Linked DNA regions of Homo sapiens: region 1 is linked to region 2. The links come from fine-mapping of genetic effects on gene expression. A gene starts in region 2. The other region holds a variant in brackets. All regions are shown on one strand. Distances are from middle to middle.

What was found. PIP is the estimated chance that this variant, and not a neighbour inherited with it, causes the effect.
Region 1: its variant is the best candidate, but not a certain one, in a credible set for the expression of THEM4 in whole blood (INTERVAL, PIP 0.82).

What each region holds. Positions count from the first base shown.
Region 1 is chr1:151,875,302-151,883,638 of GRCh38, reverse strand. THEM4 (thioesterase superfamily member 4) reads left to right here. Exons shown (of 6, transcript NM_053055.5): 5 at 6,514-6,638. Among named protein-coding and RNA genes, the nearest start is that of THEM5, 26 kb to the right of the region's middle. The variant AC/C (reference allele first, on the strand shown) is at 3,814.
Region 2 is chr1:151,904,887-151,913,223 of GRCh38, reverse strand. It overlaps THEM4 (thioesterase superfamily member 4), which reads left to right and starts at 3,713. Exons shown (of 6, transcript NM_053055.5): 1 at 3,713-3,864. The coding sequence starts at 3,766. RefSeq lists enhancers at 2,741-3,328, 3,317-3,436, 6,428-6,967 and a silencer at 3,677-3,986.

The DNA.
Region 1 (8,337 bases), 30 kb after region 2:
GCACAATTAAATCCTTTATTTTCACTAACAATTTAGTTAGACATTTTATAATTCTGATATGGTTTGGCTTTGTGTCGCCACCCAAATCTCATCTAGAATTGTAATCCCCATGTGTCAAGGGAGGGACCTGGTGAGAGGTGACTGGATCATGGGGGCAGTTTCCCCCATGCTGTTCTAGTGATAGTGAGTTCTTATGAAATCTGATGGTTTAAAAGTGTTTGGCAGGCTGGGCACCGTGGCTCACGCCTGTAATCCCAGCATTTTGGGAGGCCAAGGTGAGTGGATCACCTGAGATCAGGAGTTCAAGGCCAGCCTGACCAACATGGTGAAACCCCATCTCTACTGAAAATGCAAAAAAAAATTAGCTGGGCATGGTGGTGTATGCCTATAATCCCAGCTACTCAGGAGGCTGAGGCAGGAGAATTGCTTGAACCTGAGAGTTGCAGTGAGCCGAGATTGCGCCAGTGCACTCCAGCCTGGGCAACAGAGCAAGACTCCATCTCGAAAATAAATAAATAAATAAATAAATAAATAAATAAATAAAAGCATTTGACAGATCCCCCCTTGCACTCTCTCTCTCTCTCTCTCCTGCCACCATGTAAGACGTGCCTTGCTTCCCCTTCCCCTTTCCCTTCACCTTTGCCGTGATTGTAAGTCTCTTGAAGCCTCCCCAGCCATGCAGAACTGTGAGTCAATTAAACCTCTTTTCTTTATAAATTACCCAGTCTCAGGTAGTTCTTTATAGTAGCATGAAAATAAACTAATGCAAACTCTCATGATTTTTATAATCTCACAGCCCAGTAAACCTTCAAATCATTTCTCCCTACAAGTTATTTTCCCCTTCCATTGAAATTTAATCAAGAGTTCATTTGTCAGATCCATATGCTCGGTGATGGTGGTGGTGGTTGTATTACTAAAAACACTAAATTAGTCACCAGCTCCATTGTTCTAGTGCGGTGTTGAGATATATCCCATAAATACATCAACATGCCCACCTCAACTAAGTCATTTGGCAGATAAAACAAGCTCAAATGCAAAATGGGAAGTAGAACTTTGAATCAGACTGTTGGGGATTTGAATCCCATGTGTGCCACCAAATAGCCATACAGCTTTAGCAAATTACCTAACCTCTCTGGGCCTCAGTTTCCTCATCCATTAACCAAAGACAATAATACTTTTCTTAAAGAGATATTTTGAGGATCACAGTTAATGTATTCAGAGCTAGCAGCTTAATATGTTAAATGAAGCTTTTTTTTTTTTTTTTTTGAGATGGAGTCTCTCTGTCACCCAGGCTGGAGTCAGTGGTGCAATCTTGGCTCATTCCAACCTCCGCCTCCTGCGTTCAAGCGATTCTCCTGCCTCAGCCTCCTGAGTCGCTGACATTACAGGCACATGCCACCATGCCCGGCTAATTTCTGTATTTTTAGTAAACATGGGTTTTTGCCATGTTGGTCATGCTGGTCTTGAACTCCTGGCCTCATGATCCATCCGCCTCGGCCTCCCAAAGTGCTGGGATTACAGGCGTGAGCCACCATGCCCGGCCTAAATGAAGCTTTTTAATTATTATTTTCAGATCTATGTTTAGCAGAGAGAGAGAGAAAAAAAAAATTACCCTGAATCCAGCACAGAGAAAAAAGGAAATGGGAAATATAGAGAGCATAAGCTATAGTGGACAAATAAAAAGATCTAACATGCTCTAATTAGAGTCCTAGAAAAATAGAATAAAGAGAATTGAAGAGATCCAGTATTTAAGGAAATAATGGGTCAGCATATTCAAGAGCTAAAGAAAATCATGAATTGACAATATAGAAAGCAATCTATATCAAGCTAGGTTTTAAAAGTATATCTAGAGACATTATAGAGAAATTGGAGAATACTTAAGACAAAGAGATCTTAAAAGCAGAGCTAAGATAGAGCAGCCATTACAAAGCAGTCTTGCTTTTTAGAAGCAAGAGGGCACCATTACACTGGCAGTAAACCTCTCAATAGCAACAGTAGAAGCCAGAAGACAATAAAACATCTGCCAAAAGAAAATGTCGATCTAAAATCATGCTCTCAGCAAAGCTAAAGTTCAAAAATGAGCGCAAAATGAAGGTGCTGTCATTCAAACAAATGGAGAGAATTTATGGAACAGCAGGACAACACCCAGGGAGCTCCTAAATGGTGGACTTTAGAAAGAAGGAAAGCAATCCCAACAGGTGGGAGGATGAAAGGAGGAATCATGAGCAAATTAATTGGTAAACATGTAGATAACTAAAATCTAAATAGAGTCTATAAGTAATATTGATGTCTAAATTCTGAGGATTGGTGTGTTGCAGTGGCTCATGCCTGTGGTCCTAGCTACTTGGGAGGTTGATGCAAGAAGATCGCTAGAGCCCAAGAGTTCAAGGTTGCAGTAAGCTATGATTGCGCCACTGCACTCCAGCCTGGGGGACAGACTGAGAACCCATCTCTAAAAATAATAAAAATAAAAATTTACAATAAATAAATTATAGTGATTAACAAAAGGACAGCTAAAATACTGGATAACAATAGCATGTAGTTTGGGAGGAGATGAACAGAGTTAATGTTGATACATCCTCATATTTTTCAGTGGAGAGAATGATTAAAATAAGAGAAAATGAGTGTATAACTAATATCTAAAACAATACAAGATCAAACAAGTAGTAAAACTCAATTTTTAAAAAGGCAAGGAAAAAAAGAGGGTTAGAAAAAGCGAGTCAAATAATAAGCCAAAATAAGATGATAGAAATAAGTCTAAATAAATCAGTAATGACTCTCTATAAATAGACCAAACCATCAGTTCAAAGACAGATTATAATATTGAATTTTTAAAAGTAAAAAACTAGAAACTATATGAGACATATTTTTGAAATGACACCAAAAAGTTTAAAAGGAAGAGAAAATATGCTACACAAAAGTTAACCAGAAGAAAACTGGGATCAGAAAAAATAATGAACTGTCAAAAAAGTAATATTGGGGATAGAGAAGGCTACTTCATAGTAATAAAAGATTCAGTTCAATAGTAGGTAATAATAACTAAATCAATATGCGTCTAATAAAGAGTATAAATTAAATTGATATAATCATAGGGAGAAGTTGACTAGCCCACCTTTATATAGTGGGAGATTCCAACACATTGTTCTCAATTTTTTTTTTTCAAGACAGAGTCTCGCTCTGTCACCCAGGCTGGAGTGCAGTGGCGCGAGCTCAGCTTATGGCAACCTCCGCCTGCTGGATTCAAGCAATTCTCCTGTCTCAGCCTCCCAAGTAGCTGGGACTACAGGCACCCACCACCATGCCTGGCTAATTTTTTTCTATTTTTAGTAGAGACAGGGTTTCACCATGCTGACCAGGCTGCTCTCGAATTCCTGACCTCGTGATCCGCCCACCTCGGACTCCCAAAGTGCTAGGATTACAGGTGTGACACAGCACCCAGCCTGTTCTCAATTATTGATAGGTCAAGCAGACAAAAAAAAAAAATCAGAGCCAAGTGAGGTGGTGCACATCTATAGTCCCAGCTATTTGGGAGGCTGAGGCAGGAGGATTGCTTTAGTCCAGGGGTTCAAGGCTGCAATGCACTATGATAACTCCTGTGAATAGCCACTGAACTGCAGCCTGAGCAACATACTGAGACCCTGTCTCCAAAAAAAAGAAAAAACAATTAGAAAATGGAGGATTTAGGCCAGGCACGGTGGCTCAAGCCTGTAATCTCAGCACCTTGGGAGGCCAAGGTGGGTGGATCATGAGGTCAGGAGATTGAGACCATCCTGGCTAACATGGTGAAACCCCATCTCTACTAAAAATACAAAA[AC/C]TTAGCTGGGCATGGTGGCATGTGCCTGTAATCCCAGCTACTTGGGAGGCCGAGGCAGGAGAATCGCTTGAACCCAGGAGGCGGAGGTTGCAGTGAACCAAGATCGCGCCACTGCACTCCAACCTGGGTGACAGAACAAGACTCCATCTCAAAAAAAAAAAAAAAGAAAAGAAAAGAAAGAAAGAAAATGGAGAATTTAAACATCACAAGATAACAAGTATGGTTTATTAGACAAACATAGAACTCTGCATCCAATAATTAGAAAACAGCACACTTTCTTTTTCCCAGCACACATTTGCAAAAATTGATCATGTATTGGCTTATAAATTAAGTCTTAATAGATTTTACAGAACCAGAACCTTACAAGCCAATGTTCTGGCCACATTGAATTTGAGGTTAAAAAAAAAAAAAGAACTTTTTAAAAAAAATCTATAGTAAATTAGAGTAACATTAGCTAGTGTAACTCCTACATTTCACTACTTTAAACCTATAGGCTTTTTTGGTTTACCTAATAGTCTCATGTGGTTATCCTGGTCAGTGAGGGTAACCCCATGAAGTGATTGAGAGACCCAGTCTCGTTTCAGAGTGAGACTCCTCCTTCCGCTTAGTGCCTCAGTGTCTTCTTTATTCAACTATTCAGGCTTTCTAATCATTTTCTTAGTTTTAATAAATTTTTGAAATTTTTTTCTATTTCATCTGCATTTTCAAATGTATTGACATAAAGTTATTCATAATATTCACAATATTCTCAATTTTTAAAAAATTTCAGCTAAATCTATATCCTTTTTGGCCCCAATAGTATTTATGTATGCTCTCTCTCATTGTCTTGATCTGTCTTGCCAGAAATTATTAGTCTTTTCAAAGAGTTATCTTTTGGCTTTGTTATGCCTTTCCAGTGTGTGTGTGTGTGTGTGTGTGTGTGTGTGTGTGTGTATAGACATATACAAATATAATAAAACAAATTTTTTTATTTTTAAATGCTGCTTTTATCTTTGTTATCACTTTTCTGCCTCTAATACAAATCTAATTAAGTGTTCTAGCTAAACGAAGGAAAACAAGCTAAAGCCAGTTTCCTGTGCCAACCAAACTGATCTGTGCCTAAATATTAGTTACATTTAGAAAATTACACTGTATAGTTGTTGCATTATTTTGTATTTTCTGAAACATTTTCTGTTAGTCTCTTTACTAATCTAGGACTTTCTGTTACAAGGGCAACTCTTAACTCTCACTAGCTTAAGCAAAAAAGGGAATATATTGGCTTGTATGGTTGAGAAGTCAGGTGTGGCTGAGTGCAGATATTCAGTGATGTCATTAGGAATCTCAGCCACATTTTCTTCTAGATCTGCTTCATCCTTACGTAGCCTTTCCCAGTGTAGTGGCACAATGGCCACCAGCCAGGCCAGCCAGGCTTATGTCTTGTAAGCCTAGCGCCTCAGAGAAAAAGAACCCAGCCCCAAGGGCTACAGCACAAGTTCCAGGATTGACTATTTCAGCCTGTGCCCACCCCCACAACTGGTCACTATGTGTGTGTGGAGTGGAGGGATCATTATTCAATGCCAGTCAACCTACATGGGCTAAGAATGAGGGAGAGGTGGTTCCCTGACAAAAGGGGTACATGAGTATATCAAAGAGAGAGATATGAAGAGAATGAAGGGAGGGTAGGGGATGGATAAATGAAGAGAGTCATGTTAGTAGAAAAGGGAGTTGCTGGGCAGGCGAGAACACCTAATGTCCCCTGGGTCTTAGTAAATGTTGAATTGACTCAACAAAAGAGCAAAGGAAAAGCTAATGGGAGTGGAAGTATTAAAAGTTCATTGAAAGGAAAACTGGGCAGAGAGATCATCACAGTGATAACTTCCTTTCTACCTGGGGTAGTTCCATCATCTGCTTGGTAGTACCATAGGAGCACGAAACACGTTTCCGTGCTCTACCTTCTGTTTCAACCAACTGAAATTTCACTTTTAAAGAGATATCCTTTCATTGTGATATGTTTCTCCAGGATTCCCAGAAACGTCTGTAGCCACTAGTCACATGTAGCTATTTAAAGTTAAGTATAAATTAATTCAAATTAAATAAATTTAAGGACTCAACTTCTCAGTTATGCTAGCCACATTTCAAGTGCTCATTAGGCACATGTGGCTACCAGGTTGGACAGCTCAGATATGGAACATTTGTATCATCACAGAAAGTTCTATTGGACAGTACTGACTTAGAGCAGTAAGCTGTTATCAGCAATTTGTTGTTATTAGGTGTCTTTCTAGTGACCATTACTCAGAATTGAATGAGAAATGTTGATTATGACAGAAGAAATGAGAGAAGCTGCCTGGGACCATCTGTTGGCCCTATTTTCACTTCTTTAAAGCATTTCAGCTCCCTTAGGACTTTGCAGTGGATCTCCAGATGGGATAGTCTCTGCCATCACAGAGCTGGAATTCCTGATGATCCCTTTGAAACAAGCCCAGAGAGACATCCAGGGACTGTAGCCCAGGAGCCACCTGAGAGCAGTGGTGCTTGGGAGAGGGGGAGCTTGAGAGGCTGTTGGTGTCAGAGTCCTTGAGGAATGTATTGTCTAAGGCAGTCAGTGCTCATTGTTGTCAGGTGTCATAAATTTCTATCCCTTGTCATGTACTTGATCATCTTTTAATGTTATATAAGTCAGATAAAAACTGATTTTTTTCCTTTTTCATTTTATTCTGCAGACCTATCCCTCTTTGTTCTGTTGTTATGATAAATAGCCAACTTGATAAAGTTGAAGGAAGGAAATTTTTTGTTTCCTGTAATGTTCAGAGTGTTGATGAGAAGACCCTATACTCAGAGGCGACAAGTAAGAAGCTGGTCTTATCTCTTTCTTGGGGTTTAGTTGGGTTGGGTTGGGAGTTTTGGTTGGTTGGTTGGTTGGTTGATTTGGGTTTTGTGGGGGTCAGGGGGGTGTTTTGGTTTGGTTTGGTTTTTTGCCCTGGTATTATAACCCATACATGCCAAAAAATTCTTAATTCCCTGTCATACAAAGAACAAGTTAAAGATATTCTTATACATTGCTAGTAAAGGGCAAGTTGCCAACAGCTATCAAAATTACAGCCCAATGCATAAGCTCATGCCTGTAGTCCCCGCACTTTGGTAGGCTAAGGTGGGAGGATCACTTGAGCCCAGGAGTTCGAGACCAGCCTTGGCAACATGGCAAGACCCCATCTCTACAAAAAATACAAAAAATTAGCGGGGCATGGTAGTGTGCGCCTGTAGTCCCAGCTACTTGGGAGGCTGAGATGGGAGGCTCCCTTGAACCCAGGAGACAGAGGTTGCAGTGAGCTGAGATCGCACCTCTGCACTCCAGCCTGGGTGACAGAGCCAGACCCTGTCTCAAAAAAAAAAAAAAAATTTACAAAGTGATATGCCCTTTGACCCACCTCCAGGACTTTATCTCACAGGTATAATAACTGCAAAATTATAATGTGTTAGATTGCTATCGGGTTCCAGTGATTGTGTCACTCATGCAACATTATTTGCAATAGCAAGAAAAATGGCAAAACGTAGCAAACATAGCTATCCATCAATAGGAGACTGGTTAAAGAACTACAGCTCACCTATGAACTATATTGTATGTGTGTGCCATTAAAAAATGGTGAAATATTGTGATACCATAAATAAGAAAAATATGTCTATATTTATGTGTGTGTAGACTGTCTCAGGAAAGTCACACACATGACCTGTTACTTCCCTGGAGTACTGAGGTTCATCCATGTTGTTGGCTGTGTTCACTTGTTTGTACCACTGTGTAATACTCCATATGTGACTGTCCCACAATGAATGTCTCTCTTCCAGTGACAGGCCTCTGACTATTACAAATGGGGCTGCTATAAACATTCTTGTTCATGTCTCCTGGTGGTGTGCATGGGCAAGAGCTTGGCATATACTTAGGAACAGAATTTCTGGGTGGTAGAGTATTGTGAGTATTCAGCTTTACAGAGGAATGCAAAATTGTTTTCTAAGCCTGTACCAAATTAAACTCCCACCAGCAATATATGAGATTCTTTAGATTCCCATCTTCTCTAGCAATTAGTGAAGTCAGACTTCATGATTTTTGCCAGTCAAATGACTATAAAATGACTTCTCGGTGTGATCTTGATTTGCATTTCTCTGATTACCTGTGTGGTTGAGTGTCTCTTCATATGTTTATTGACCATATTTTTTCCCATTCTGTGAAATTTTTGTTTGTTCAGCTTTTTTTCCATTTGTTCTCATTTTCTTACTGATTTATAGATGTTCTTTATATATTTTCTATTAGAACAATTTTTTGTTGGATATATAAGTTGCACATACCTCCTTACAGTGTGTAAGTTGTCTTTTATTTGCTTTAAGGTATCTTCTTTATGAACAGAAATTTTTAATGTCAATTTAGTTGCATTTATTACATTTTTCCCTTTATGGCTAATTTTTTTGTATCTTGTTTAAGAAATTTATTTTTCCTCTTAAGTATGAAGCATTTGCAGGAATGATGGATTTAAGGAGCAGGTGGAAGATAATAA
Region 2 (8,337 bases):
TGTAATTCACAAAAACTGGAAATAAGCCAAATGGTCATCCATGGGTGAATAGAAAAATTGTGGTACATCCATACAATGGAATACTACTCAGCAATTTTAAAAAATAAATTCTCGACATAAGCAAAACATGGATGAATCTCAAAATAGTTATAGTGAATTAAAAAAATCCAGACCACAAAAAGTACATACTATATAATTCCATTTATATAAAACTCTAGAAAATGGAAATTAATCTACAGTGACAGAAAGTACTGTACGATAGAAGGGAGGATTTACAAAAGGGCATGAGCAAATTTGTGGGTAATATTTTGTGGCTCATTATCTTGATTATGGTGATGTTTGCATGAGTGTAAACTTGTATGAAAACATCCAATTGTATACTTTAAATATGTTCAGTTTATGTCAACTATCTCTTTTTTTTTTTTTTTTTTTTTTTTGAGACGGAGTCTCATTCTGTCACCCAGGCTGGAGTGCAGTGGTGCAATCCTGGCTCACTGCAACTTCCGCCTCCCGGGTTCAAGCAATTCTCCTGCCTCAGCCTCCCGAGTAGCCGGGATTACAGGTGCACGCCACCATGCCCAGCTAATTTTTGTATTTTTAGTAAAGACGGGGTTTCATCATGTTGGTCAGGCTGGTCTCGAACTCCTGACCTTGTGATCCGCCTGCCACAGCCTCCTAAAGTGTTGGGATTACAGGCATGAGCCACTGCCTCTGGCTTTTTTTTTTTTTTTTTTTTTGAGATGGAGTTTCGTTCTTGTTGCCCAGGCTGGAGTACAATGGCGCGATCTCGGCTCTCTGCAACCTCCACCTGACAGGTTCAAGCGATTCTCCTGCCTCAGCCTCTCAAGTAGCTGGGATTACAGGCATGCGCCACCACACCTGGCTAACTTTTTTTTTTTTTTTTTTTTTGAGACTCAGTCTTACTCTGTCGCCCAGGCTGGAGTGCAGTGGCGCGATCTTGGCTCACTGCAAGCTCCGCCTCCCACGTTCACGCCATTCTCCTGCCTCAGACTCCCGAGTAGCTGGGACTACAGGCGCCCGCCACCACGCCCGGTTAATTTTTGGTATTTTTAGTAGAGACAGGGTTTCACCGTGTTAGCCAGGACGGTCTCAATCTTCTGACCTCGTGATCTGCCCGCTGCAGCCTCACAAAGTGCTGGGATTATAGGAGTGAGCCACTGCGCCCGGCCTTAATTTTTGTATTTTTAGCAGAGACGGGGTTTCACCATGTTGGCCTGGCTGGTCTCAAACTCCTGACCTCAGGTGATCCACCCACCTCAGCCTCCCAAAGTGCTGGAATTACAGGTATGAGCCACGGTGCCCATCCTATGGCAACTACACCTCAATAAAGCTGTCTACAAAATTAAAGAATGGTGAGAAGACTATTAAGTTTCATACCATTGGCTTATTCGAAGCCTAGTTCTATCAAGATTGAACATTTGTTCCTTGCCTAAACCATACAAGCTTCAAACTCCTTCACTTCCATAGCCTATCAATCCTATTTCTAGACTGTAACCTGCCCTTCCTCTTCCAAATCTGACCAGACATTTTATATGTGCTGTCAACACGAATATCCCAGAGTAAGCCATGCAAGAGTGTGGATGACTTAACTAAATGCACTGCCGCTACTTGAAAAATTTAGAGTTAAAATTTAATGAAGTTTAAACTCAGTGTAACTGACCTCTAATTGCCCTAAGTCTAAGGTCTTTTAAGAAGCTGATAGGTGCCGAGTGCAGTGGCTCATGCTGGTAATCCCAGCACTTTGGGAGGCAGGCAGATCACTTGAGGTCAGGAGTTCAAGACCAGCCTGGCCAACAGGGTGAAACCCCGTCTCTACCAAAAATATAAAAATTAGCCAGATGTGGTGGCACGCGCCTGTAATCCCACCTACTCGGGAGGTTGAGGCAGGGAGAATCGCTTGAACCCTGGAGGCAGAGGTTGCAGTGAGCCAAGATCATGCCACTGCACTTCCAGCCTGGGCAACAGAGTGAGACTCCATCTCAAAAAAACAAAAGGAAGCTGTTAGGTGAGCTATTGGTACATTAATCATATAGACAATCTTAGCAGGGTTGAAGTCTATAGGTATTGATTGATTTGACTACACTGTAAATTGTAAATAGATGCAATTTTAAGTTACCTGAATAAACTTTTCTATTCATTAACAGTAGTCATCTCAATTTTAGAGATTTACGTTATGCTCGTGCCTCCATCTGCACGCACAACATGGGAAGACAACAGACACCAAAGATACTTTGGATTCTTGCTGCTAAGTAAGTATTCAAGCACTACGTGCACGTTGTTACAATTAATAAGGCAATCTGACCCCATCCCTGCCACCAGGAAACTGCAATACTATTAATATATTAAAAAGGAAGACAACTGAGATAAAGGGAATGTGGGAGGTTGGGGGGGGTGCTTAGGAGATATCAGAATACAACCTCTTAGAATTACAGAATCTCAACAACCATCCTTTATGCCTGATCTTCGGTTCAGTAGCTCTAGGATTCCAAGGGGCCCCTCCTAACTGCATTGCCTTCTCTCCCCAATTCCCTTTCTCTCAGAATGTTACACCTTCCCCCAGTTAATAGTGTAGGCTTAAAATGTATCTAGGTGTTCTTACCTACTGACAAACTGCTGGAGTTGTTCATGGGAAAGGAATCAAGGCAAAATATCTAATGCATTCAGGTCATTCGAGTTTTCTTTTTAATTTATTGCTTTTTTGAGATGGGGCATCAGTATGTTGCCCAGGCTGAAGTGCAATAGCAGTATCTCTGCGAGACTCTGTCTCAAAAAAAACCCATTAGAGTCTTCACCTTAGGATGGACTAGGGCTATGGCATACTGGTAAGCATTTAAAAATAAAGGGGTATGATGGCCCGGATTTGCATTATCTGAGTAATGGGAATACTCCAACCCAGTCCGATTTCAAGGTCCCAGTGAGGTTACTGAATTCGAAGCTCAGAAGGTATGCGCCTAGTATTCCCACCATACGAATACAAGCGAGGTAAGTAACCTCAAAAGCATCGATAACAGTAAAATAGTTACAATACCTGTTACGCCTTTAGTATCCATTACCTTCGTTTAATTTAACTGTCAGTTTACATAACAAAAGAGTCTTTTAAGGCGTAAGCGCGCTCCTGGGGAGGGTATGGGGCTGTTGGCAGGGAAAGCAGCTTTTCGATCGTATAAATGCTCTTTGTGCCCAGACTGCCCTCTATAAATCAGCACTATCAACCCTGTCCAGAGACTTGCCCATGACCTCCAAGAAAACACTTTATTCATACTACTCCTAGCGTGCGCTCCTACCCGCCCCAGGGACTTCAGTCTTCCGGGGGAGGGATAACTACTTGGGGACACGGAGCACTGCGTACGCCCTGGGTCATGTGGGAAGGATGACCGCAAAGCCTCCAGTCGGCGCGCGGGTTCCGGGGCTGAGGGGCTGAGGGGCCCAAGGCGATAACCGGGATCCGCTCCGGCCGCGCTCCTCTTGCCTTTGAGAAGCCCCGGAAGTGGCCCGGCTGTTGGCCGCAGCGGGAGGTCTTCGGAAAGAAAAGGCCGGAACCAGAAGATAGACTCAACAGCGATGCCCTACCCGGACCCCGCCGGCCTCACACCCCGGCCAGCCAGCCGCCAGTAGTGCGCACCGCCTCCTCCCCAAGCCCCGCCCTGCGTCCACCCCAGGGGTTAACTCGCACGCGCGCTCTTGTGGCGGAGGTAGAGTGCGCCGTCCAGGGCTAGAGCAAGCGCGGCCCCGCGGCCCGGAGCCATGCTGAGGAGCTGCGCCGCGCGCCTCCGCACGCTGGGGGCTCTGTGCCTGCCGCCAGTAGGCCGGCGCCTGCCGGGAAGCGAGCCGCGACCCGAGCTGGTGAGTCTGGGCACCCTCGGGCATGGGGCGGGAGCAGGACTCAGAAACACGCCTGCGGTAACAGAGCCTTCGATTGTTATCCATACCCCAACCAGCCAATCTCAGAATAAAAGCTCACCTGGGCACCACAGGGCAGCATAAGCAACAGGGGCCTAGGAATACAGTCCTGAGATTCAAACCGTTAGAAAAGGGATGGAAAGGTGACCCCGTTTTTTTGTTTTTTAAGAGACAGGGTCGGCAGGGCGCTACCTGAACTGCATAATTTAGTCTGTCTATTTATATTTTGACAACATCTGTATTTTACCAATAATATTTGAGGCTGTTTTTATTTTTCAAAGATTAAAGTGACGTGAACTAAAAGATACCACAGCTTTTATCTTCCCTTTAAAAAAATATTTGATCCAAACGCTTATCTTCCTTTAGGTCAATTAATTAGAGATCTTTTTATAGACATCACACACAACACATATATAACTACACAGACAGGCAGAAGAAAACCCAGTTGCCATAAGATCTTTCATCACAGGGAGAGGGATCTATCTGCTTTTAATTCCTGGGGTTCCATGAGGAAAACAGAGATCGCCCCTCTTATGCAGGCATTAAAAGTGGCAAGGCAAAATGGAGAAAAATAACTCAGTCGACCGCAAAGAAACACTTTTTCCAGCAAAATAAGGTCCAAGAAAAGGAAAACATAAAGGCCTTATAAATATAATTACAACTTAGATATCTACTTTTAATTAAGCTGAGCACTCCTTAAGAAAATTCTTTTAACACCCTTATTATCTAACTTTAGCTCCACCAAGCGGCCAATATTTCTGGCTTTCAAACTTTACTTAAAGGCTCAGAGAAAGGAAAATCCAAGGTGGTTGGTGGAGGGCAGGGGAATCGACAAATAGCGAAAGGGCATACAGATACCAAACCAGAAAGGACTCATTCCCTAAGCCAGGATGAATCTGGGCCATGCCGGGCTAAACGAAGCTATGCAATGGGGTTACAGGCCACGCCCCCAAGGACGTAAAACAAGATGGAGGCCTGCAGCGAAGTTTGCTGTGGAGCATACAGAAAGACATGCAAAACACACAGATTGGCTACAGCTTACGACTTACCTCACAAATCCTTTCGCACAAAACTTTACAGAAAATATAAACGGTAATCCTCATCATTCCCAAAAGAGCAAAACGTCTTCCAAAAGGAAAAGAAAAACCTCCTTTAAAAGTATACTGCTGATGGGTTGGAGAGGAGATAAGGATGCCTGGGGGAAGAACCTCTTATTCCTATGCAAATGGTTCCTCCACCAGAGAGAGGAGCTTAATTGCTGTGGGACAGAGCTAGACTCCCTGGAATGGGGAGGGGGAGACTGCAGGCACCTGGTAGGGAACGCCAGCCAGCCATGCCGGCGCCTTGGAGCCTGGGCAGTGGCTGTGGCTCATTTATGCCCTGTGTGGCTACTGGACACCACACACACATGCTGCAGACACCACCATGCACCCCAGCCAGTAAAGAAGTGGGGCCAGGGAGCTACCCCACCCAACTGTCTTGTGAGTGCACTGGTGACCATTGGGGTGGGTGTGGACCACCTCCAGTATCGTAAAAAGAAAAATAGGTGCCGTTGCTGTCCCCCCAAAAAGAAGAGGAATGCCATAAGACCAAAAGGCTCAGAAATGAAAGTGAGAGGTTTTGAGTCCCCATTTCACTCATCCTTCTGTTGCAGGAATGAAGGAGGACTGGAGAGGCCATGGGGTGAGACAGGAGAACTTTATTGAGTGCACTCAGACCCAGCGGACTAACATCCAAAAGCTGGGCCCAGAACAAAGACAGCACTTGACTTTAATACACACTTTTAAAAGGGGGTGGGCTAGCTTGAAACAAGCTTACAGTGGCGTGAAGCATAGTGGCGTGAAAGCAAGGATACAGAGGCAGCACAAAGGCAATTAATTCATCAAATTGTGACAGGTGCATAATTCAGGATTACATACTGTGTCGGAATTGATGGGTTCTTGGTCTCACTGACTTCAAGAAAGAAGCCACGGACCCTCGTGGTGAGTGTTATAGTTCTTAAAGGCGGCATGTCCGGCGTTTGTTCCTTCTGATGTTCGGATGTGTTCAGAGTTTCTTCCTTCTGGTGGGTTCATGGTCTTGCTGGCTCAAGAGTGAAATTGCGGACCTTCGTGGTGAGTGTTATAGCTCTTAAGGCAGCACGTCTGGAGTTGTTCGTTCCTCCCGGTGGGTTTGTGGTCTCGTTGGCTTCAGGAGTGAAGCTGCAGACCTTCGCGGTGAGTGTTACAGCTCATAAAGGCAGTGTGGACCCAAAGAGTGAGCAGCAGCAAGATTTATTGCAAAGAGCGAAAGAACAAAGCTTCCACAGTGTGGAAGGGGACCCGAGCGGGTTGCCACTGCTGGCTTGGGCAGCCTGCTTTTATTCTCTTATCTGGCCCCACCCACATCCTGCTGATTGGTAGAGCCAAGTGGTCTGTTTTGACAGGGCCCTGATTGGTGCATTTACAATCCCTGAGCTAGACACAAAGGTTCTCCACGTCCACACCAGATTAGCTAGATACAGAGTGTCAACACAAAGGTTCTCCCAGTCCCCACCAGAGTAGCTAGATACAGAGTGTCGATTGGTGCATTCACAACCCCTGAGCTAGACATAGGGTGCTGATTGGTGTGTTTATAAACCTTGAGCTAGATACAGAGTGCCGATTGGTGTATTTACAGTCCTTTAGCTAGACATAAAGGTTCTCCAAGTTCCCACTAGACTCAGGAGCCCAGCTGGCTTCACCCAGTGGATCTCGCACTGGGGCTGCAGGTGGAACTGCCTGCCAGTCCCACGCTGTGTGCCCACACTCCTCAGCCCTTGGGTGCTCGATGGGACTGGGCGCCGTGGAGCAGGGGGCAGCACTCATCAGGGAGGCTCGGGCCGTGCAGGAGCCCACGGAGGGCGTGGGAGGCTCAGGCATGGCAGGCTGCAGGTCCCGAGCCCTGCCCCGCCAGAAGGCAGGTAAGGCCCAGTGAGAAATCGAGCGCAGCGCCAGTGGGCCGGCACTGCTGGGGGACCCAGTACACCCTCTGCAGCCACTGGCCCGGGTGCTAAGCCCCTCATTGCGTGGGGCCGGCAGGGCCGGCTGGCTGCTCCGAGTGCAGGGCCCGCCAAGCCCACACCCACCTGGAACTCCAGCTGGTCCACAAGCACCCCGCGCAGCCCTGGTTCCTGCTCGCGCCTCTCCCTCCACACCTTCCTGCAAGCTGAGGGAGCCGGCTCTGGCCTTGGCCAGCCCAGAAAGGCGCTCCCACAGTGCAGCAGTGGGCTGAAGGGCTCCTGAAGTGCCGCCAAAGTGGGAGCCCAGGCAGAGGAGGCGCCGAGAGGGAGCGAGGGCTGTGAGGACTTCCAGCACACTGTCACCTCTCACTATGACCCTTGCTTATGCAGCCCAGGTGGCTGTTATCTAGGCTTGCTCAAAAGAGCCTTGCAAGTGCTTATCTCATAATCTTCACTATGGTGCCCAGACGGCCGCAGCCTAGGCCTACTCAGGCATGTCTTATAACCTTCACTGTGCTGTTTAGATAAAACAGAATACTTGAAGTTACTAGTTACAGAAAACAGGAATCTATAAACTCATAAAACTTGCAGAGCAAGGTACAATCACACGGAAGGGGATGGGATTCAAGGGGGAACTTTACTTTTTCTTATCCTTTTGTTGAGGGAGTGCTGGAAGAGTCTCCAGAGCACATCCTTTGAGCCCTGGTTTCTTTGAGAATGTTATCAAGACTACACCCGGGTCAGGGCTTTGCCTGTTACTGCCTTTGGGATGAGTCAGCCTCATATAGAAAGCTTGTTTTTCACTTTTTAAATTTTATTTTGCTTTCTTCAATTTCCTGCCTCACTTCCTCAGGCCCCATATTTGAGCGCCAAACACAGTTAGGGTGAGAGTGAGACTCTGTCTCAAAAAAAAAAAGGACTTTCTTCTCAATTCATCTAAGTTCTTGTCACACAATCAGGAAAGATCAGTCTTGTGGACACAGAAGGGTGAGAATAATGGAATTTATTGGGCAAAAAAGGAAAAAGAGAAAAACCTCAGCAGAGGAAGAGGGAGCTGCTCCTACCCTGCCACACAGGAACTCAAGAGGCCAGGCTCCTTGCGTCTGCCAATGGCATGAACTTCTGTGGCTCCACCCTGTTCTCCCAGTCAAAGGCTGGTGGGAGGTTCTCTGGGGAGCTCTTTTTACTTCGCTGTCTTACCACTTTATAAATGTGTAACCAAAGCTCAAGCAAGACCTTTCCTCTGTTCAGGACAACAAAATATAATCGTTGTCCCTAACATTTCTACTTCATTTATAATCTATGCTTTGTCTTTACTTCAGGTATCTCTTAGTTTTCACCTCCTTGAACTGAAACCTTTATTATTTCTATTTCTACATTATTATAGTGTCCATCTGGAGTAACAAATTCAACCCCTGCCAAACTAAAATTAATAG